Homo sapiens: one gene and its partners. The protein of the gene in region 2 purifies or fractionates together with the protein of the main gene of each other region. This does not show direct contact. Each region holds a gene or a part of one and is shown on either strand. Other genes may lie near its edges.

Region 1 (3,500 bases), on a different chromosome or scaffold from region 2:
ACGGTGAAACCCCGTCTCTACTAAAAATACAAAAAATTAGCCGGGCGTGGTTGCAGGCGCCTGTGGTCCCAGCTACTGGAGAGGCAGAGGCAGGACAATGGTGTGAACCCGGGAAGCGGAGCTTGCAGTGAGCCGAGATCGCGCCACTGCACTCCAGCCTGGGCGACAGAGTGAGAGTCCATCTCAAAAAAAGATTTCGGCTGGGCGCGGTGGTTCCTGCCTGTAATCCCAGCACTTTGGAAGGCCGAGGCGGGTGGATCACTTGAGGTCAGGGGTATGAGACCAGCCTGACCAACAGGATGAAACCCCACCTCTACTAAAAATACAAAATTAGCTGGGTGTGGTGGCACACACCTATAATCCCAGCTACTTGGGAGGCTGAAACAGAAGAATCGCTTGAACCCAGGAGGCAGAGGTTGCAGTGAGCTGAGATCCTGCCACTGCACTCCAGCTTGGCTAACAAGAGCGAAACTCCATCTCAAAAAAAAAAAAAAAAATTTTTTTCAACAAAATTTTAAATAGAAAGTAGACTGGGAACTGTAACATTTAGTAAAGGAAGAATAACTTCTGAAAAATCTAAGATTCAGAAGCGTGGAGTAAGATGATATGAGGCGGGGGGCTTTCAATCATCAATTCCCCGACAGGTAGGTAGGTAGTAAAAAAAAAAATGTAGAATAACCCTAACGACATTAAAGCAAAACATCCTCAGATTTGAAAATACAGCCAGCCTTCAATATCCATGGGTTGCACATCCATGGATTTAACCAACTGAGGATCAAAAATGTAGTTTAGGCCTATGATGGTTGTATCTGTACTAAACACATACAGACTTTTTCTTGTCATTAACGCCTAAACAATACAGTATAACTATCTACAGAGCATTTACATTATACTAGGTATTACAAGTAATCTAGAGATGATTTAAAGGGTACAAAAGGATGTGCACTGAAACACTACTACCATTTTATGAAAAGGGACTTAAGAATCTGTAGATTTTGGTACCCACAGGGGGTTTTTTTAAAGTGGAAAGCAGCATGAGATAAAGGACCGAGAGAGAGATTAAATCATTGTTTTTCAAGCTATGGATTACAATCATATATATATATATATATTTTTTTTTTTTGAGACAAAGTCTCACTCTGTAGCCCAGGCTGGAGTGCAGTGGCGTGATCTTGGCTCACAGCAACCTCCACCTCCCAGGTTCAAGTGATTCGTCTGCCTCAACCTCCCGAGTAACTGGGACTAAAGGCACGCACCACCACGCCTGATTTTTTTTGCATTTTTAGTAGAGAGGGGGTTTCGCCATGTTGACCAGGCTGGTCTGGAACTCCTGGCCTCAGGTGATCTGCCCACCTTGGCCTCCCAAAGTGCTGGGATTACAGGTGTGAGCCACCCTGCCCGACCACATCGATATTTGTTGTTTGGTTTTTTTTTTTTTTGAGACAGTGGCTCTGTCACCCAGGCTGGAGTGCAGTGGTGAGATCTCGGCTCACTGCAACCTCCGCCTACTGGGTTCAAGCGATTCTCCTGCCTCAGCCTCCCGAGTAGCTGGGATTACAGGCACCCGCCACCATGCCCAGCTAAGTTTTATATTTTTAGTAGAGATGAGGCTTCACCATGTTGGCCAGGCTGGTCTTGAACTCCTGACCTCGTGATCCACCCGCCTTGGCCTCCCAAAGTGCTGGGATTATAGGCGTGAGCCACTGCGTCCGGTTGCTCAATGTTTTTAATAGCAACACCAAGAATTACTATACATACTATAGGAAATATTAAACAACAAAGACACTTGTGTTGTTTGCAAATAATATCTATATTATGAATAGTGTGGATTAGGATTAGCATTCACAAAAATGTTTATAATCCTTCAAACTTACCAGCTTCCCTTTTCTTAGATTTCACCTTAGGTTCAACATCCACAAGTAGTGTATCCAGAGGTAAACTGTCTGGTAGAATAAAATACCGAATGTTATTTCCTCGAATACTCAGCGTTTCCAGCTGTACAGGTTCTCTGTTCTTCAGGGTCATTTTCACAGCTTTAAGATGTGTATTCATGCTGACATCCACACCTAAAGAGGAAAATAATTGTGCAGTTATTAGTATGATACAAGTTAAGGCAACTAATTAATCTACTGAGCCACAGTAAATACTGGACTACAAAAGATTACTGTTCTTCTACAAAGTGCAAGTTTTCTATGACACAATTTAGCACATGTGCAACTGGTAAATGGGGGAATGTCAGCAGTGTTTCCTTCCTAGAGATTTTTCCTAGCACACTAATGTTTTGCTTACAGAAGTGAATGCAGCAAGCCATGGAAGAACCCTGACTGGGCTTTAGGCTCACTACTGATGTGACAGGTATTTCTTTCATGTTTCTCCCACTGTCTTTGTAACTTCCTCATAATCCCCATTCCACCAAACTATCCTCACCTTTGTTTCTGCTTCTCTCTGTATATAAGAATTGTTACTGCTTTTGTTAAGATGGATCATGAGGTCAGGAGTTCGAGACCAACCTGGCCAACATGATGAAACCCCGTCTCTACCAAAAATATAAAAAATTAGCTGGGTGTGGTGGCACGCACCCATAACCCCAGCTACTTGGGAGGCTGAGGCAGGAGAATTGCTTCAACCCGGACCCGGGAGGCAGAGGTTGTAGTGACCTGAGATTGTGCCACTGCACTCCAGCCTGGGTAACAGAGTGAGAATCCGTCTAAAAAAAAAATTTACCCGGGCATGGTGGCAGGCACCTGTAGTCCCAGCTACTTGGGAGGCTGAGACAGGAGAATTGCTTGACCCCAGGCGGCGGATGTTGCAGTGAGCTGAGATCGTGCCACTGCACTCCGGCCCAGGTGACAGAGCAAAACTGTTTAAAAAAAAAAAAAAAAAATTACATAATTCAGACAAAAAAAATAAGGATTTGTACTACAATAATGTTCATTAAGCAATAAAAAAATAAACTCTGGCTAGGTAAAAGAGAAGAAAAAAAATGTTATAAAAGCAGTCCAACCTCCGTACCTGTGATTGTTCCATGGACCTGTGTTCCGTTCTTCAATTCAATGGTTACAGTTTCATGACTCAATTTCATCAAAAATCTATAAATAGGAATAAAACCATTTTTACCTGTAACACTTTAAAATCACATTTATTAAGGTGAAAGGGTGAAACAACTCGATGTTGAAAATTTGCTAGATGCTATCTGCATCAATTCCTATCAATAATCTGCATAACAATTTCAGCTTTCCTGAATTATATCCTCAACCTTTATGAAGGAACACAACAATACTAACATAAACTGTCATTTGGACGTTTCTAATTCTCAAACCTGAAATCCAGACATACAAGATCTTAGACTCATTATAAACCATGAAAAAGAAATAGGCCAGGCGTGGTGGCTCACGCCTATAATTCCAGCAGTTTGGGAGGCCAAGGCGGGCGGATCACGAGGTCAGGAGATCGAGATCATCCTGGCTAACATGGTGAAACCCCGTCTCTACTAAAAAATA
Region 2 (3,500 bases):
GGTTTAAGCGATTCTCTTGCCTGAGTTTCCCAGGTACCTGGGATTACAGGTGTCCACCACCATGCCCGGCTCATCTTTGTATTTCTAGTAGAGACAGGGTTTCGCCATGCTGGCCAGGCTGATCTTGAACTCCTGACCTCAAGTGATCCGTCCCTCTCAGCCTCCCAAAGTGCTGGGATTACAGGCGTGAGTTACCGTGCCTGGCCTTTTTATCATATCAACCTAAAATTTATTTTGAACTATAAAATTTTCTAGGTACCTGGTACTCAGGGAGTATTTGTTAGTCTGAAGATAGTCTGTGGTCGTATAGCTGACATCATAACCAGGGGGAACCAGATAACTTTGTAAGTCATCTGATGGCCTTTACAGAGCTTTTTCTGTTAATGACTATTGATTTTTAACAGTTCATGAGTATGTTTTTTGTTGTTTTGTTTTGTTTTAGAGACAGGGTCTCACTGTGTTGCCCGTACTGGAGAGCAGTGGCGCTGACATAGCTCACTGCAGCCTTGGACTCCTGGGCTCAAGTGATCCTCCTGCCTCAGCCTCCTGAGTAGCTGGGGCTACAGGCATGCACTACCATACCTGGCTAATTTTTTTATTTTTTGTAGATACGGGAGTCTCACTGTGTTGCCAGGCTGGTCTCAAACTCCTAGGCTCAAAGTACCCACATTGGCCTCCCACACTGCTGGGGATTATAGGCATGAGCCACTGTGTCCAGCCTTGTTTTGTTTTTGATCCCCTGTTATTTGTGTTAGAGTATTTGTTTCAAGTTTGCATGAAGTTTTGCCTTAAAGCTTTTTGTAGCCTCCACATAATGCTGTGGGTATAGATAGAACTGTGGGTATAGATAGACAGAACTTACTGTTGACTGCCTGCATGTCTTTCTCAGTCGTAGTCATTGATTTCCTTAGTGTCACTAGGAGGAAAAGTCTCCCTTAGTGAATCCTACTAATAAGCAACGTCCTTACTAGTGAATATAAAAATATAGTAGACCTTTAAATCCTTAATGGCAAGTGATGCCTGTGGACTTGACATTGATTTCTCTAGGCCTCACATCTTTAGAGTATCCACTTTATCCAAAATGCTTAGTGGTCTGTGCTGGTGCAGACGTTAACTAGCAACAAAAAATATCTGTGCAAAGTACAGATAGCATCAATATAAATTTAACATAATTTAATCTTTAATAGACAAAACAATTTTAGGCTCACTGGAGAAGACGTGTATAGGTTTATTGACCTCTCCAAGAAGTTGTATTTTTTTTCTTTTACTATATATTAAATTATATAAAATAGAGATGGGGTCTTGCCATGTTGCCAAGGCTGGTCTCAAACTCCTGGGCTCAAGCGTTCCTCCCATCTCAGCCTCCCAAAGTGCTGTAATCCTGGCCTGTCCAGAAGTTGTTTTTTTTTTTTGAAGTCTGTTACCAGCTTTAAAAAAAAAAAAAAAAATTTCTTTGTGATTTTCAGCCTGCATTTTTTGAAATTTTACTCGTTTTGCAAAAGGTTTGATCAGGTGGTGTGTATTTTATAGGGCTTTGGCAAACATTTTGGTTTTAGTTTTTATGCATTTAACTAATTTTTGTAGAGTTTTACACTTAAAAGATTTTGTAGTGCAAGAATTTATGTGACATTTTAATACTAAAATATAATTTTTTATGTTTTATGCCCCATATGAGCTTATTTCCATTTTATATAAATCTTATGAAACATTATTTGCTCGACTACAGCATTTTTTGGAATTGCTGACTCAGATTTTATAATTTTCAAATTTTTAATAATTTGACATTTTGACCCACAACATGTTTGAATGTGATTAGTATTTTCTAAGCTCTTCTCTTGTGTTTCCTCAGTTCCCTACACCACGGATATAATCAGTTAGTGGATGAGAAGTATATATTTTAAGTTTCTAATTAAGATAGAAAAGCAAGATAGATGTTGTCTCCAAGCAAATAAAAACCTTATTAGCTAATAAACTAAAATATTTTAAGTGCAAATATTGTTCATTATGCTGTTTTTTAAGTTAAGAAAATCCTAAACTGTCTTATAACTTTTATTAGGTACTTCCTCCTCCAGCTGGTTATGTTCCTATTCGAACTCCAGCTCGAAAGCTGACAGCTACTCCAACACCTTTGGGTGGTATGACTGGTTTCCACATGCAAACTGAAGATCGAACTATGAAAAGTGTTAATGACCAGCCATCTGGAAATCTTCCATTTTTAAAACCTGATGATATTCAATACTTTGATAAACTATTGGTAAGTGATACTAGCAGAAATAAACTATTAATTGTGTTCCAGAATTATAAATCATAACATTTCAACTTCCCTTAACATTTTTTTCTTTTTACTATAGGTTGATGTTGATGAATCAACACTTAGTCCAGAAGAGCAAAAAGAGAGAAAAATAATGAAGTTGCTTTTAAAAATTAAGAATGGAACACCACCAATGAGAAAGGTAAGTCCCAGTTTGTTAAATTGTCATGTTTGTTGCTTATTTATTTAATTAAAAAAAATTTGTAGTTTTTGTAGAGACAGGGTTTTGCCATGTTGCCCAGGCTGGTCTCAAGTGATCCTCCTGCTTTGGCCTACCTCCCAAAGTGCTGGGATTACAGGTGTGAGGCTCTGCACCTGGCCATGTTTATATTTTTAAAAATGTTTTTAATTTTTTCACCAGGAAATGTAGACCACAAAATAGTAGTGAACTATTGGTATAGCCCGCTGTGGAGTGTGGTCTTTCCTTTACTCTCCCAAATAGCCCAAATTGGTAAAGGTTATTTAGAAAGCCTTCCCCATAAAAAATTAACTTTTGGTAGTGTTATATTTTTGTGTTTAGGAATTTATAATTACTGTCTTCATCTTTATCAAGGACATAGCATGAGGGGAAAAAATTTATGTAGTGTGAAGGATTTAACTTTTTTGCTTGTTTTTATTATTAATATTATATATATATTTTTGAGACAGGGTCTTGCTCTCTTGCCCAGGCTGGAGTGCAGTGGTGTAGTCTTGGCTCACTGCAACCTCCGCCTCTTGGGTTCAAGCAATTGTGCCTCAGCCTTCCAAGTAGCTGGGACTACAGGCGTGCACCACCACGCCCTGCTAATTTCTGTATTTTTAGTAGAAACGGGGTTTCACCATGTTGGCCAAGCTGGTCTTGAACTCCTGGCCTCAAATGATTAACCTGCCTCGGTCTCCCAAAGTGCTGGGATTACAGGTGTGAACCACCATGCCCAGCCGTTTGTTTTTATTATTATTTAAATACTCCTGGGCTCAAGAGATCCTCCTGCCTCAGTCTCCGAAAGTGTTGGGATTACAGGTGTGAGCCACCGTGCCCAGCTGGAGTTAGCACAAAATTCTTTGGTTAAAAAAGCTAATAAAAATGCTGAAAAATGAGATTCTCCTTTTTGTTCTTAAGGCCTTTAAAATATGCTTAAAGCTTGAAGATAATTAGTGAAATTATGTGAGGGATTATGTTAACACTATATGTGCCTTGGAAATGGAAGAT
Region 3 (3,500 bases), on a different chromosome or scaffold from region 2:
ACCAGAACTGAGGTTCTATTACTCATAACCCAATGTCAACTCCTCTGTTTCATATATAAGGGACTGAGGCCCAGGGAGAAACTGATTTAGCCCAAATCACACAGCTTATCACTCACGGCAGAGGCAGAGCAGGCCACAGGACTCCAGACCCTGCTTCAATCCTCTGCAGTCCACAACAACCGCCCTCTCACGTGCTCCCCAATTTCACAGCCTGACAGTCAGGACTTTGCCAGCCAAGGCCCTTGTTCTCCATTCTCCTTCCCACACAATCACAAGCCTGCCTGGAGGCAGGTCCCATGGCCACCAGCCCTGCCCCTGGACGTACCACATCCCTCTCCTCATTGTGCTCATCCTTGACGATGAAGATCATGTCGAAGCGCGACAAGATGGTGGGCATGAAGTCAATGTTGTCCTCCCCCTTCGTCTCATCCCAGCGGCCGAACACTGAGTTGGCAGCAGCCAGGACGGAGCAGCGGGAGTTCAGGGTGGTGGTGATCCCAGCCTAACAGGCGACAGACGACGAAAAGGGGGAGGAGATGGCAAAGATGCCTTCTTATATACACGTTTACACACACACACACACACACACACACACACACACACACACACACACACACACACACACACAGATTCTAGGCCTGGGCAAAGAGAACTTGGTCCCAATCAGGGCAGCCTGAGGACGGTTGGGCCACGCTGGGCTGCTGCAGGCTGGGCTCTCCATGGAGGGCCACTCACCTTGGCGATAGAGATGGTCTGCTGCTCCATGGCTTCGTGGATTGCCACACGGTCATCTTCTCGCATCTAAGTGGGGAAGAGAGAAATATCATCAGACCTACTGAAGTGAGGGAGCAGGGAGCAGTAGAAACAGGAAAACTAACAGCAGCCCTCACTCCTGAATACCAGCTCCACGCAAGGCCAATGGCAGCAACCAGGTCACCTCTAATCATGGGAACAACTGTGTGGGCTTGCCTTTCTTCTCCCCACTCTTCAGATATGGGAACTGAGGCTTGAAGAGGTTAAGCAGCTTCCCACAGTTACTAGAGTGACCGGCCCAGGGATTGAAAACATGTCTCCCAAGTCAGAGGTGATTTCTGCTGGCTGAGCACAGGAAGTCACATACCCTGGTGCCACCCACCTTTTGGCTACTACCCACCTCATCAGACTCACCTTGTCAAACTCGTCAATACAGACGACCCCACCATCGGCCAGGACCATGGCTCCGCCCTCCATGATGAAATTCCGGGACGAAGGGTCCCTCATCACCGAGGCTGTCAGTCCAGCTGCGCTGCTGCCTTTCCCAGACGTGTATACCTGGGGCAGTGGGGTGGTGTCAGGGCCCAATAACAACTCCATGCTTTGACCCCCATAAGACAAAAAGACCCACTGAGGTTGTGATTTGCCCAAGGTCACACATCAAAGCTGGCTGCAGGGTACAGAATAGGACTCAAGGCTCCAACTCAGTGCGTCTCCCTCTGGAAGGGGATGCTGCCCTGGGCCTCGGTGTGCCCAGATGTTCTCCCCGCTGAGGGCATCACATCCATGGCTCACCTAAGCCTCACCACAGCCCTGTGACACAGTCTTGTGAGGCCCAACTCACAGATGAGCAAACTGAGGCCCAGAGAAGAGGAGTTAGCCTCAGGGCTAGGATGAGGACTCCTGACTCCCAGGGAAAGCCTGCCCCCATCGTGAGTCCCTTGTCGTCTCTATATAGACCTACACGCCACATACTGCCATAGAGCCCCTGAAATTGGGAAAGTCCTAACTGAGATGTCCTTAATCGTGCAAAATACGCACGATTTCAAAGACTCAGAGCTCCTAAGAATGTAAAGTATCTCAATAATCTACATATCAAACAACATGTTGAAATGAGATTTTAGATATAGCGAGTTAAACAGAAGTAACTTCACCTGTTTTTCCTTTTTTCTTTCCCCTTCTTCCTTTTAAATTGAAACGGGGTCTTGCTATGTTGCCCAAGCTGGTCTCAAACTCCTGGGCTCAAGTGATCCTCCCACCTCAGCCTCCCAAGTAGCTGGGACTACAGGTATGCACACAACCGCACCCAGCTACTTTTTAATGTGGCTGTTAGACAATCTGAGAAGACATACATGGGTCGCATGTGCAGTTCACTATTTCTACTGGACAGTGCCAGTGTGGCAAATTTGGCACACTTCCTATCTATCCAAAGACCACCATCTCGCCCTATACAACCCCGCCACTCGGATCATGTCAGACCTTCTCTGGCTCTGATCCCCGCAGACCCATTCAACAACGCAGCAGAGGACCCAGCTCATCAGACACTTGGGTTCAATCACATCCTGCTCTAATGCTTACCAGCAGTGAGACCTGGGCCAAGACACTTACCCATTCTGTACCTGAGTTTTCTCACCCCTAACACAGGGGTAATAGTACCTGCCACACAGTTGAGGTGAAGACTAAGTAAATATATGCAAAGTACTTCAAGCAGTGTCTGGCCCTTCATTTTAGCTATTATTATTATTATTATTATTTATTATTATTATTTGAAACATGGTCTCACTCTGTCACCCAGGCTGGAGTGCAGTGGCACAATCTTGGCTCACTGCAACCTCCCCGTTCTGGGCTTAAGTGATCCTCCCACCTCAGCCTCCCAAGCAGCTGGGACCACAGGTGCATATCACGCCTGGCTAGTTATTTTGTATTTTTGGTAAAGACAGGGTTTCACCATGTTGTCCAGGCTGGTCTCAAACTCCTGAGCTCAAGCAATCCGCCCACCTCGGCCTCCCAAAGCGCTGGTATTACAGGGATGAACCACCATGCCCAGCCAGATTTTAGCTATTAATGATAACAATATCATTATTTAGCAAATGGATAAACTGACGCTCAGGGAGATTGGGTGACTTACTCAAAGCCCACAGCCAATTTCTGGCCAGGGTGAGACCCAAACCCCATCCTGACTCTCAGTACAGTGTACTCGCCCCCTGCCCCAAACCTACATACACCTGTTGGCTCCCTTCTTCCTCCCATCTCCTCGGCCATCCTGACCGCAGCCAAGAGAAAGGAGGAAGAGATTCCGGGTGAGCCAGCCCACCACAGGTGTCCTGAGGACCCAGAGGCCCTGCCCTGCAGCCTTCCTCCCTGCAAGCCAAGGTGGCAAAGGTATCCCAGGCCACTCACCCCAATGGGAGAACACTTCTCCACAAACTTCAGAAGCTGGGACTTGGCTGTCCCAGGGTCCCCTAGCATCAGCAGGTTGATGTCTCCTCGGCGAGTAAGTCCATCAGGGAGCCTGGGGGACGAAGGGTAGATGGACAAGGTGAGAATCCATGAGGGCATCGCATGTGACATCCAGTCACCAGATTGGTGGGCTGGCAGTTGACTCCCCCAACTATCATGGGCCTCAGAGTTGGTAAGAAGGTAGTGGCTGTGGCCTGAGACCCATGTTCCTACCCAGCTCTGTAGTTCCCAAACCATGGTAGGTCTTGCCTAGCAATGAGGACAGAGCTTGCCTCCCAGAAGAGGAG
Region 4 (3,500 bases), on a different chromosome or scaffold from region 2:
TTAAGTTCAAGATAGGCAACTCTTTTTTTTTTTTCTTTTTGAGATGGAGTTCCGCTCTTGCTGCCCAGGCTGGAGTGCAATGGCGTGATCTCAGCTCACTCCAACCTCCCAAGATAGGCAACTCTTCATGAGAGTTATTATGGTGAAGTAATCAGTTTGTTCACTAGTTACGTGATTCCTACCATACCTCTTGTTCTTCTTGCCGTTTTTTAGCCGCCTCTTCCTTTTCCTTCTTTATTCTGAATTCTTCTTGTGCCTTCTGCTCTCTTAGCAACCACTCCTCATGTAATCTTTGCCTATCAGTATAATGATGTAATCAGATAAAAGAAATGGGCATTAATCCACAAATACACACACACACGAGAGCAAAATGACACATTTTGGGACTGATTCAAATATCACGAAAGCTATTTTCTATTAAAGCAGTCAAGTGGGTGTAAGAGAACGAGAAGAGCAGAGCTTTTGGAAAAGCACCACGTGTCAGCAACTATCTTCCTAATGGGTAATAACTTAAAATCTCTCTTACATTTCATAGGTATATATGGCTGTGACATACTTTACAGAAAAAAGGACACTATGACTTTCCCTCTAGACTGATCACAGTGATGTTTAGGTGACAATAAAATGGGTAGCAAGTTTCAAAGCAGCATCTACCTTTTCATATTCAGAAAGCATTTCCCTTCCTATTCTATGCATTTATTTTTATTTATTTATTTATTTTGAGACAGAGTATTACTCTGTTGCCCAGGCTGGAGTGCAGTGGCATGATCTTGGCTCACTGCAACCTCTGCCTCCCGGGTTCAAGTGATTCTCCTGCCTCAGCCTCCCGAGTAGCTGGGATTACAGGTGCCCACCACCACGCAAGGCTAATTTTTGTATTTTTAGTACAGACAGCGTTTCATCATGTTGGCCAGGCTGGTCTCGAACTCCTGACCTCAAGTGATCCACCTGCCTCGGCCTCCCAAAGTGCTGGGATTACATGTGTGAGCCACTGCACCCAGCCCCTATTCTTAAAAGTAGCAATTCCATGATGGCAGCACGCTGAAAACCCAGTATCCTTTGCCATAAACCTTTGGACTACTACTACACACAGTTAAGAGACTCCTGTGGTTTGCCTCCAAACACCTAAACAGCCAAAAGAAGGAAAATAAAAGTACATTGTAATCATGTTTTTAAAATAAAGCTACAGGTTTTAAGAAATGGAGTTATAAAAATAAATTAGTGAGGGCCGGGCGCAATGGCTCGCACCTGTAATCCAGCACTTTGGGAGGCTGAGGCGGGCGGATCACCTGAGGTCAGGAATTTGAGACCAGGCTGGCCAACATGGTGAACCCCATCTCTACTAAAAATACAAAAATTAGCCAGGCGTGGTGGCAGCCGCCTATAATCCCAGCTACTTGGGAGGCTGAGGCAGGAGAATCGCTTGAATCTGGGAGGCGGAGTTTGCAATGAGCCGAGATCATGCCACTGCACTCCAGCCTGGGTGACAGAGCGAGACTTCGTCTCAAAAAATGAAAAAATAAAAATAAATTAGTGAGTGTCTAGTCTATTTTTTATATGACCAATTATAATGAGTGGTATTACCTTAAAGTGGCAAGTGTCTCAGACATCCAATATCACAAATTTCTAATATAAAGAGGGGGTTAGATTGCCAAAGTCTACCTGCCAATTAGGTGTGTAGAACCTCAAATTCATTCTTCCACTGAATTTATAAAAGGGAAATTAAATATGAGAAACTGTTCTATATTACTTCAGCAGTATTAGGAGTTCAGTAAAGTTTTATGTCTAGTCTGGGGACCTAACCACAATTTTAAATAAAATATATTACATTTCCAAATACAGATTCCAGGAACACATCTTTTAGCCATGGCAGAGGCTGGCACATTGCATCTATCAGTGTTCCTATGCCATGTGTGAGGGTACCATATAGATGTTTCAGTGGGCACAACTCTGATTTACAAATCTTTTGAAAAACATATAATTGTATATAAATGAACCAAATGATATATAAATTAAGACCACAAGAAAGTAAAATGTTAAAAATTTTAAAATTTAATAACTTGAATATACATCTGCTTTGAAATAGGACATAAAGTCATACAGTATTTTTACATAATTTTCTTGCTTTTCAATAATAGTATGCAACTCATAAAGAAATAAAGATCTAAGGAGCACAAAGATACATGTATGTGATTTAAAAGAAGCATTTCAAATAAACAGGAAAAAAATTACTCTCTTATTTCATACCGTATCTATTGTCTTCATCATAACAGAAATCTATAATAATAAGAACTAGAGCTATCACAGCACCTCTCATCTGCTGACACTGTGTTAAACACTATACATCCATCACCTCCTTTAATCTTCACAATTCTGTGAGGTGGATACTGTGATTGACTTTATCTCCATATTACAGACAAGGAAATAGAAGCTTAGAGACATTAAGAAATTTCGGCTGAGCGCGGTGGCTCACACCTGTAATCTCAGCACTTTGTGAGGCCGAGGCGGGCAGATCATGAGGTCAAGAGATCGAGACCATCCTGGCCAACATGGTGAAACCCCATCTCTACTAAAAGTACAAAAAAAAATTAACTGGGTGTGGCGGTGCGTGCCTGTAATCCCGGCTACTCGGGAGGCTGAGGCAGGAGAATCGTGTGAACCTGGGAGGTGGAGGTTGCGGTGAGCGGAGATCACACCACTGCACTCCAGCCTGGTGACAGAACGAGAGTCCGTCTCAAACAAAACAAAACAAAAACAAATTTTAAAAAAACATGTATCCCAAAAGAGAAAGGTGTGAGACTTGAGCAATCTACAAATAGGTAATAAAACATATAAAAAGATACTCTACCTAATTCAGAAATGTGCATTTGAAACAGTTTCATTATAGTTTTATAAACTGATAATGCCTAGTATGAGTGAAGGTATGGGGAGATGGGCCCCTACATTCACTGCCAGAAGGGCTGCAAACTGCAAACCAGGAAGCCCTTTCTACCTGGCCATCTACATTTTACATGGACTTATGATTTGATTCCAACAATCTCATTTTTAGTCATGTTCTTAAGGAAATAACTGGACAATTACCAAGGATATATAAGCATGGATGCTTACTGCAACTTTTTACATATGAGTGAAAAACCAATATAACCTGAAAGTCCATCAGTAGAGAACTATAAATTATAAATGAATAAACTATGAATAGCAAATAAATTATGCTACATCTGTACAGTGGGTACTGTATTGCCACTGAAATGGCTGAATTAGATCCCTGCATCAGTACTGAAATAAATGCACTATATATTTAGCAAGAAAGCAATTTATAGAAAAATATGTATAAATATCATGCCATTATAGAAAGACACACGTAAAGTACATTTACACTTTCTTTTTCTCTTTCTTAACAGTGGCTATCTTTGGGTGTGTTGCAATTATTAAAGTCTTTTCCCTTTTTACATTTGTTAATTTTTTTTGTTTTTTTTCTGTTTTCAAAAACAATTACAGGT
Region 5 (3,500 bases), on a different chromosome or scaffold from region 2:
CCACAGAATAGCAGTATGAAATATAAAACTTTAGATATAAAGACAAAAGGTACAAAGTTTTAAATATTGAGCCCACCAAAATCCATAATCCATGTAACCCAGGACAATCCACTAAACCTAAGTTTCTCATAAACTTAAACCTCATTTTGCTCATCTGTAAAGTGGTGATGAATATCTTCCTGCAGGGTTATAGAAAAACGTAAATGAGCTAATACATGTAAAGTATACAGTGTCTGGCTTTACCCAAATATCAATTAAATAGTAAGTTCAGAGTTACAGTCTTTCTTGTAGTTTGAAAATTCTTAAAATTTCCGTAAGGTGATTTTTGAATACCCTAACATCAATTCTAAGTTTTCCTTCATTAAAAAAGAAAAATTGGCAAGGCTAAGGCAGGAGGATTGCTTTAGCTCAGGAGTTCAAAACCTCAACTCTACAAAAATTTTATTTAAAAATTAGCCAGGCACTGGTGGCATATGCCTGTGATCCCAGCTACTTGGGAGGCTGAGGCAGGAGGATCGCTTCAGCTCAGGAGGTTGACGCTGTGTTCATACCACTGCACTCCAGCATGGGTGAAAGACTGTCTCAACAACAACACAAAAATTAAAAAAAAAAAAAAGAAAAGAAAAGAAGAATGGTACTAAGGCTCAGTCTATAATAAAAGCTTCCTATTTTGGTTGCTACAGTACCTTCAAAATGTCTCCATGCACATGTAACTTTAGAAAAAGATAAATTGTGTATGCGGTATGTTCAATCTCTGCATGGTAAGACAGGTAATTCACTTCAATACTTTCCTGAATTTTTCAAAGTTTCTACAATGATCAGGGACTGCTACTTTTGAAACCAGAAATTTTTAATTGATGGTTCAGGCTTAAGTGTATAAAGACAGTTACTTCTCACCCACAGCAAGAAAATGCAAATTAAAAAGTACATTAGAATGCAATTTTTCACCTATTGGATTTGTAAAAATTCACGTTTTAATAGTTTCCCACGTGTTCTCCTACATGCTCATGGAAAGGTAAATTGATACGCTCCCTCTGGAAGGCTATCCAGCTTTCTGTATCACAATTACAAATGATCTTCTGACCCAGCAATTTCTGCTTCCTACAGAAACACTTGACCCATGCAAAACAACCATGGGAAACAGTCTAAATGTCTATCAACAGGGGTCTAGTTAATAATAGCCCATCCATGTTTAAAAAATATCCTAGCTATATTACAAATAACACACTAGTAACAGTGTTTAGTTCTATGGGAGGGAGGACGACTAGATGGACAAAAGTCACCGGTATAGACTTTATATTACTTTGGCATTTCATTTTTTGCATGGTTCAAAATACCATATTAAATACAAACGACAAAAATCTACCCCAGTGATTTCTCCACCCAAGTACCAGAAAACAAACTGTGGGTCCCTAAATCTGTACTGTCCGGGAGTCAAAATACCTCTGCCATACATAAGGTAACAAAATTTGAAAAGCGAGCACCACTATTTTCCCCTAGATTCAGGGGAGAGGTATTCTCTATAGGATTTCCACTCTGAAATTCAGAGTGCCAATTAAACATCAAATCAGCTATTCTTCAAGATGTTCTATAGGACAGACAAGGGAAATGACCACCAGAATCAAATATGCAACATTTGGTAAACTTAAACATAAATGAAATATGTACCATGGTATACAATAACTCACCTGTGTTGTTTTACCAGACCCAGTCTCACCAACCAGTACAAAGGACTGATGTCTAACCAGAATATCTGTAAACCTATCCTTGTATTCCCAAACAGGGAGCTGAAGACGTTTCTTTAGAATATCATAGTATCGAGGAGTATGGGGTAAGTTGGTGAACGGATTAATGCACTGTGGAAGTGACGTGTGACCTGCATGTCCGGCATGCGTTGAATGAGCAGAATGTGTTGAATGCGTTGAATGTGCTGAGTGGGTTGAGTGAGCTGAATGGGAAGCTTTCAAAGGTGGTAATCCAGCACTGATAAGCATAGCATTTGTTGAAGCTCGCAACTCCTTCTCCTTTTCTTTCTCCCTCTCTCGCTCTCTATCTCCTCTATCACGTTCTCGGTCTCGATCTTTAGACCGATCTTCACGATCCCGGTCTCGATCTCGATCCTTCCTAAAAACAAAAATTTAGAATTCAGATTCTGAATTTTATGCAGAATGTTCACGGTAGCGTTATAATCACAAAGAGAGTAAATGTCCAACGTTCAAATGAATAAAAAGTCCAATGGATTATGTAACTATCAGAAATAATAAAAAATACCCTACAATCAAGGGTTTCCCATTCTCCACCACAAACATCTTTCCCTTCCTTGCTGATGCCCCACCTTCCTTAACTTTTAACATTAGGTGAGGTAACACAAGAACTCAGTCTGCTGCAAGTAAAACCCCTCCTACTTAGACAACAGAAATCAGATACTGAGGGTAGGATGAAGAAAGGATAGGTCCAAATTGAGTAAAAGAAGATGGCATCTCAATCTTTCTCAAATTCTCCTTCAATTTGTGAAGAGGTATTTTGTGCACTAAAAGTATATTCAGAAGTTAGCACAAACACTGCTACTGGAGATAAAGACAACTCCACCTCACATCATTACAGTCAACAGTGGTGGGTTTTGCTCAATACTTTTATAATCCACTTCTAATAAATTACTTTAATATTCCTTTCTTTGCCATAGGACGATGTTCGGTTGTAATGCAAAGTGAAAAGAGCATAGTACAATGTTATACCTGTCAATATCTCAACTAATACAAATACGAATTACAGGACTGCAGAATTTGTTTTCTTAGTTATACTTTCCAGCACTTTCCCAATTTTGTTCAGTAAATGTATATTGCTTTATTAAAAAAACTGAAATTAAAACTTTTATTCCTTCTTGCTTGTTTACTCTTGCATTTTAACCTAAACAGCAACAGCAAAACACTGAAAGCACTCTATAAATCTATGTACCTTGGTCTACCATAAAATGAAACATAGCCAAATTAAAAATAAGCTTTGCTAAACACTATTAAGTTGTTTAACATGTTAAAATTATGCAGGTAGCCACTCTATTAAACCTGGGTCAATTTTAAGTAGTCAATGCTGGTATCTACTTCCAGTTACTAGAGATTGACCTTAATAAGTCATTTTAAAAGTATCTATGCTAAGAACTTCACAAGCAGAATGGCTGCAGGTTGTTCATATGCGTTGTGGCTGAAAGCAGCCTCTGGGAGACTGGTGGTGGGAATAAAATAAAATAATCTATGCTTGTTCATTTTACTAATCCAGTTTACTTCAGACCAAGTCCATCAGCAGAGAAATTTGCCTCAAGATCTTTAAACCCAGACTTGAAATAATGAGACATGACGGAGCTATGACACAAGCCCCGAAACATGTCATTGTTCCTTACCCACAATACACAAAAGTACAAATTCCCTGTGCTCCAAGTGCAGTTGTGTGACATGTACAAATTTACTCAAAAAGGGGAAAAGCCATATATATGCATATATAAACAT
Region 6 (3,500 bases), on a different chromosome or scaffold from region 2:
GAGGCCGAGGCAGGTGGATTACCTGAGCTCAGGAGTTTGCAGCCAGCCTGGGCAACACCGTGAAACCCTGTCTCTACTAAAATACAAAAATTAGCTCGGTGTGGCAGCATGCACCTGTAGTCCCAGCTACTCCTGTGGCTGAGGAAGGAGAATTGCTTGAACCCGGGAGGCAGAGATTGCAGTGAGCCGAGATCCTGCCACTGCACTCCAGCCTAGGCAACAGAGTGAGACTCTGTCTCAGAAAAAATAAATAAATAAATAAATAAATAAATAAATTATTTTGAGACAGAATCTTCCTCTGTTGCCCAGGCTGGAGTGCAGTGGTGCAATCTTGGCTCACTGCAACCTCCACCTCCCGGGTTCAAGTGATTCTCCTGCCTCAGCCTCCTGAGTAGCTGGGATTACAGGCACGTGCCACCATACCTGGCTGATTTTTTTATTTTTAGTAGAGACGGGGTTTCGCCATGTTGCCCAGGCTGGTCTCAAACTCCTGAGCTCAAGTGATCTGCCTGCCTCAGCCTCCCAAAGTGCTAGGATTACAGGCGTGAGCTACTGTGCCACACTAAGAATCTTTAACATACCTTCCCCTACTGAATAAGCACCATGAAAGAGGGGTTTTTGTCTATTTTGTTCATTGCTTTATTCCCAGAGCCTTGAATGGCGCCTGGCATCTGGCAGGTTCTCCTTAAACAGCTAAGTGAGTGAGATTGAACCTGGAAGACTGAAGTATTCTTGTGTGACAGGAAATCCCCCTGCACTGCACTCCTCTCCTAGCATTGTCTCCTCGGTCCTTTGGCCTGATGTTTATTGCTGTTCCAGCTTCCCTTAAAAATACCAACAGCCTTTCTACTGAACACTTGCTTACTGTGTGTCAGGTACTGTTCCAAGCACTTTAACTCATTTAGTCCTCACAACAGTCCTTTGAAGTGGGAAGTATCATAATCCCCATTTTTCAGACAAGGAAGTTAAGGCCAAGATATTTCTGTGTTTCTCAGTAAGCTCCTGATAAGGTCTGAATTTTTTTTTGTTTGTTTGTTTTTTGTTTTTTGTTTTTTGCTCTGTTGCCTGGGCTGGAGTGCAGTGGTGCCATCTCAGCTGACTGCAACCTTCGCCTCCTGGGTTCAAGCGATTCTTCTGCCTCAGCCTCTTGAGTAGCTGGGACTACAGGTGCGCACCACCATGCCCAGCTAATTTTTGTATTTTTGGTAGAAATGGGGTTTCCTGGCCAGGCGCAGTGGCTCATGCCTGTAATCCCAGCACTTTCGGAGGCCGAGGTGGGTGGATCACCTGAGGTCAGGAGTTCGAGACCAGCCTGGCCAACATGGTGAAACCCTGTCTCTACTAAAAGCACAAAAATTAGCCAGGCGTGGTGGTGGGCGCCTGTAATCCCAGCTAGTAGGGAGGCTGAGGCAGAATTGCTTGAACCCGGGAGGCAGAGGTTGCAGTCAGCTGAGATCTCATCACTGCACTCTAGCCTGGGTGACAGAGCAAGACAATGTCTCAAAAAAAAAAAAAAAAGAAAAGAAACAAAGAAATGGGGTTTTGCCATGTTGGCCAAGCTGGTCTCCACCTCCTGGCCTCAAGTGATCTGCTCGCTTTAGCCTCCCAAAGGGCTGGGATTACAGGCATGAGCCGCAGCACCTGGCCCCTGATAAAGGTCCAATTTTGAATCTTGGCAATTGGGCTCTGAATCCACGCTCTTAACCCGTTCTGCTCTCTGTTTGGTAGCGTATCCAGTATGCCAAGACCGACTCAGATATCATTGCCAAGATGAAAGGCACCTTCGTGGAGCGGGACCGCAAGCGGGAGAAGAGGAAGCCCAAGAGCCAGGAGACCCCGGCCACCAAGAAGGCTGTGCAAGGCGGGGGAGCCACCCCCGTGGTGGGGGCTGTCCAGGGGCCTGTCCCGGTAAGCCAGGTCCCGGAGACCAACCCTCCCACTGCCAGACCTTCCTCAGCCACATGGACTGGCTTTGGGACAGGGTGGGGAGAGTTCTCCCCTTGGGGCTTCAGACCCCTCCTTTCCATTTCTTTATAGAGATGTGTTTCTCTCTCTCTTTTGGGGGGTATTGAGCACCTAGATGATGCTATCTCCTTTCGAAACTCTTGTTCCCTCCTTGTGACTGTTTCTCAAGGTCTTTCTTCATGGCTATGACTTGGTTTCGCTCTCTCCGTGGCCTTGATTTTGTCGCCTGTGTCTTGTAACTCATTGTGCATGTAGAAAATCCAAGTGTCTACTAAGCAACTGTTAGGATTAATAAGTGAACTTAAATTTAGAAAGATCGCTGGATATAAAGGCAATATGGAAAAAAATTAGTTTTATTTATTTATTCATATTATGTTTTGAGACAGGGTCTCACTGTCACCCAGGTTGGAGTGCAGTGGCGCCATCACAGCTCACTACAACCTCCGCCTCCCAGGCTCAAGTGATACGCCTCAGCCTCCCTAGCAGCTGGAACTGTCAGTCCGTGCCACTCCACCCAGCTAACTTTTGCATTTTTTGTAGAGACGGGGCTTAGCCATATCACCCAGGCTAGTCTCAAACTCACTGTCTCAGCCTCCCAAAGTGCTAGGATTACATGCATGAGCCACCATGGCTGGCCCCCAGTTTTATTTTTATATGCCAGTAACAGACCAGTAGACTTCACATTGAAAAGTAGCACTGAGGGGTAAATCCAACAAAAGGTTTGCAGAACGACTACACTGAAATCACAGAATGTAGCTGGGAGAAATCAGAGACTCAGCAATGGATAGGAAGACTCAGTATTGTCAAGAGGTCAGTTCCATCCAAATTAATTGAAGATTCAACGTGATTGCAATCAAAATCCCACCAGGAATTTCGGTAAACACTGGACACTGATTGGCTCTTTCTAAATGTGTGGAAAGACAAGGCCAAGCCAGGCGAGGAGAATAAAGCACCAGGACCTGCATGACCAGGGGAAGCTCCAGCAACCAGGCCAGGCCCAATGGCTCATGCCTGTAATCCCAGCACTTTGGGAGGCCAAGATAGGAGGATTGCTTTAGGTCAGGAGTTCAAGACCAGCCTCTATAAAATAGCAAGACCTCATCTCTACAAAAAATAAAATAGAAAACTGGGCGTGGTGACTCATTCCTGTAGTCCCAGCTGCTCAGGAGGCTGAGCTGGGAGGATCGCTTGAGAACTGGAGGTCAAGGCTGCAGTGAACAGTGGTTTTGTCACTGCACTCCAGCCTGGGTAACAGAGTGAGACCTTGTCTCTTTTTTGTTTTGTTTTGTTTTCTTTTGTTTTTTTTCGGGAGGGAGTCTCAGTCAATCTGTCTCCCCAGGCTGGAATGCAGTCGTGCAATCTCGGCTCACTGCAACCTCTGCCTCTCAAGTTCAAGTGATCTTCTGCCTCAGCCTCCCAAGTAGCTGGATCACAGGCACATGCCACCACGTCCATGTGCAAAAAAAAAAAAAAAACCTGCAGCAACCAACCAGGATGATATACAGTTGGCAGAAGGGTAGGAAGACAGACCAAGG
Region 7 (2,345 bases), on a different chromosome or scaffold from region 2:
AGTATATTTTATTTAGAAGTTTACAGGCTTCAACAAACCCTTTTTCTACTGCAGTTTGTGCCTTTCTGTCCTTTGTGTCCTACCCTGTGGCCACGAATTATATGAAGAAAAAGTGACCCTCCTGGGTTGAGAGGGGTGGGTGTGGAAGGGAGAGATGAAGAATTCTACCTACCACTGTCCTAAGTTTCAATTTATAAAAAAAATTAAAATTCATGAAATAAAAACTTATTTTCCCCTTCCACCAAAAATCTACAAACACCCATTAAAATGAGGACATCCTATAAACACAGGCCTGGTTTGCCCTTTAAGATCCAATTTCTTCTAATGGAAGGAATACTTAAGCATTTACTGAAACCTCTCACACACTCAGTATTCTCTTGCATGAATGCCGTGTGCAAGTACTTGGAGGTTTAATTGCTTTAAGTGCTGACAGCTAAAGACTTTACCCTTTTGTTAACACACCCTGGAGATTTTAAAAACACTTTATTTAATAAAAGTTAAACATACAAAACTGAAATAATACACATCCTAAAAATTACCTTCTTCCATTAATAGGAAGACCCTTTTCTATGCATGTATTTGGCTTAAACTCAACTCAGGATAACTGTGATGATGTTCACTTACACCAACAAATGCAGACAACCTGATCTAATTAACAAAAATTACAAACAGCTAAATGAACATAATATACAGGGAAATTATCGTCAGATTAATGCACAAGAAATACAAGAAATTTTTAATGATGAAATATTCAGTATTCTTGTTCATTAATTTAGCCTTGTGTTTTTACAAAAATAGTATCTACACTGTATACAGGGCTATACATCAGCTTTTTGTTCTCCCATATAAACATCACACATCCAAAACATGGTACCACTGCCGTAAATGGAAAAAACAAAAAACAGGAAAAAAGCAAACATACAAAAAACAAAAACACCTTAGAAAAGGGAGCTCATCCTAAGGTTTCTTACATAAAACTAAGAGTACATAAAAATAAAACAGCTAGATCAATTTTAGAGATGGCCTAATAGGCCTGGGAAACAAGTTATTGAGGAAAAACCTCAAAACAAACTTTGCCATTTACAAATTAACCTATCTTTAAGCTTAACTGAACGACAGCTAAGTTTTAAAGCTGAAAATAAGAAAAATGAAAAGATCTCTTTTAGCAGGTTGGTGTTTTTGCCTTGGTGTTCCAATGAATTGCTAGAGTATGTGTCAAGTTCAAAGCATCTGAAAATTTCAAGTTACAACTTACAAAAAGTACACACCATAGGTTAAGTAGGCGCCTGATATTAGGAAGATCAATAATTCATCTAAGTGCTGTATGAAACAGCATCTACAAAAGTTGCTTTATTCAACAAACTTTGAGGGAACCGTGGTACTGATAATGAGAAAAGTTAAATGAATAGCAGTTATCAAATGCAATTTCTTCACGTTTCATTCTACTGAAGCCAACCAATGACGACAATGGTATCTTGCTTACTCATCTAACAAATAATTTACCTTTAGAAAAATATAAGGATAAAAAGGTAAATGTAAAGCCCTGCAGAGATGAAATCCAACAGTTTTTCTGATTATTGAGGCATCAAATGCCTGACATTGTATTTAGAGGTATCTTGATATTGTGTCATAGGTTTATCAGCAATTCCACAGGTTCCTACTCCAACTTTACCAGTCACACTCTCAGGTGAAGCAAAAATACTCCTCTTTACCTAAGGGAAAGAAAACAGAAATCATTCCTGATTAGTGTTGGAAAAAATAAAAAATTTCAAATTTTAAGTAATGTTAAAATATATTCTGGTTTCAACGTTTAAAAGAAGAAAAACATATTGCCTTTGTTTAGTGTTAAAAAATGGGTACAGAAGTGGTCCCATGCTGGAAGCCATTTACTGTAACTTCTAAGTTGTGGAAAATATCATTACATTTACTAATACTCATAACACTTGCCTTCTGATACGTCAAAATTTTAGTTTTGTAAACGCAAATCCTAACTTCAGCTGTGAGCTAGCCATTCTAGCATGATTAAAGCTCTGGCTGTATTGTGGTTTACTGTGGGGCCTGTTATGATAGCCAAATTGTGAAGTCCCTTGGCCTTTGTCACAAAATAAACATCTTTATGAAAAGGAAGCGCTTCTTTCCAGAAGCCATGTCCATCAATGGAAGGGCTACCTTGATGGCAGTGAAGAGTAACACATGGGTGAAAGTCAGGTTATCCTTATTCTCAACTTCCTATATGAATGCTACAGTTATTTTCTACCCAACACACACAAGGTAAGTGTATCAAGGGAAACTGAATGCACTTTTAAATAAAATCTACCAGTGATGCCCAGCATGAAGGCATGTTA

What was found.
Region 1: the proteins of SF3B1 (region 2) and SNRPD1 fractionate together in Homo sapiens (co-fractionation; 5 studies listed by BioGRID and IntAct, with this or other methods). This does not show direct contact.
Region 3: the proteins of SF3B1 (region 2) and MCM5 purify together in Homo sapiens (affinity purification with mass spectrometry; 4 studies listed by BioGRID and IntAct, with this or other methods). This does not show direct contact.
Region 4: the proteins of SF3B1 (region 2) and ZRSR2 purify together in Homo sapiens (affinity purification with mass spectrometry; 5 studies listed by BioGRID and IntAct, with this or other methods). This does not show direct contact.
Region 5: the proteins of SF3B1 (region 2) and DHX15 purify together in Homo sapiens (co-immunoprecipitation; 6 studies listed by BioGRID and IntAct, with this or other methods). This does not show direct contact.
Region 6: the proteins of SF3B1 (region 2) and SNRPA fractionate together in Homo sapiens (co-fractionation; 4 studies listed by BioGRID and IntAct, with this or other methods). This does not show direct contact.
Region 7: the proteins of SF3B1 (region 2) and SMNDC1 purify together in Homo sapiens (co-immunoprecipitation; 5 studies listed by BioGRID and IntAct, with this or other methods). This does not show direct contact.

What each region holds. Positions count from the first base shown.
Region 1 is NC_000018.10:21,622,314-21,625,813, reverse strand, and holds part of SNRPD1 (small nuclear ribonucleoprotein Sm D1), read right to left. Parts: intron 3,090-3,500; coding exon 3,013-3,089; intron 2,067-3,012; coding exon 1,875-2,066; intron 1-1,874. UniProt on the Homo sapiens protein: Plays a role in pre-mRNA splicing as a core component of the spliceosomal U1, U2, U4 and U5 small nuclear ribonucleoproteins (snRNPs), the building blocks of the spliceosome.
Region 2 is NC_000002.12:197,404,029-197,407,528, reverse strand, and holds part of SF3B1 (splicing factor 3B subunit 1), read left to right. Parts: intron 1-2,056; coding exon 2,057-2,254; intron 2,255-2,351; coding exon 2,352-2,453; intron 2,454-2,674; exon of another isoform or gene 2,675-2,811; intron 2,812-3,500. UniProt on the Homo sapiens protein: Component of the 17S U2 SnRNP complex of the spliceosome, a large ribonucleoprotein complex that removes introns from transcribed pre-mRNAs.
Region 3 is NC_000022.11:35,413,640-35,417,139, reverse strand, and holds part of MCM5 (DNA replication licensing factor MCM5), read right to left. Parts: intron 3,266-3,500; coding exon 3,154-3,265; intron 1,312-3,153; coding exon 1,168-1,311; intron 802-1,167; coding exon 736-801; intron 503-735; coding exon 326-502; intron 1-325. UniProt on the Homo sapiens protein: Acts as a component of the MCM2-7 complex (MCM complex) which is the replicative helicase essential for 'once per cell cycle' DNA replication initiation and elongation in eukaryotic cells.
Region 4 is NC_000023.11:15,800,484-15,803,983, reverse strand, and holds part of ZRSR2 (U2 small nuclear ribonucleoprotein auxiliary factor 35 kDa subunit-related protein 2), read right to left. Parts: intron 297-3,500; coding exon 188-296; intron 1-187. UniProt on the Homo sapiens protein: Pre-mRNA-binding protein required for splicing of both U2- and U12-type introns. Selectively interacts with the 3'-splice site of U2- and U12-type pre-mRNAs and promotes different steps in U2 and U12 intron splicing.
Region 5 is NC_000004.12:24,574,555-24,578,054, forward strand, and holds part of DHX15 (ATP-dependent RNA helicase DHX15), read right to left. Parts: intron 2,125-3,500; coding exon 1,689-2,124; intron 1-1,688.
Region 6 is NC_000019.10:40,757,703-40,761,202, forward strand, and holds part of SNRPA (U1 small nuclear ribonucleoprotein A), read left to right. Parts: intron 1-1,728; coding exon 1,729-1,908; intron 1,909-3,500. UniProt on the Homo sapiens protein: Component of the spliceosomal U1 snRNP, which is essential for recognition of the pre-mRNA 5' splice-site and the subsequent assembly of the spliceosome. U1 snRNP is the first snRNP to interact with pre-mRNA.
Region 7 is NC_000010.11:110,292,576-110,294,920, forward strand, and holds part of SMNDC1 (survival of motor neuron-related-splicing factor 30), read right to left. Parts: intron 1,713-2,345; coding exon 1,575-1,712; 3' UTR 1-1,574. UniProt on the Homo sapiens protein: Involved in spliceosome assembly.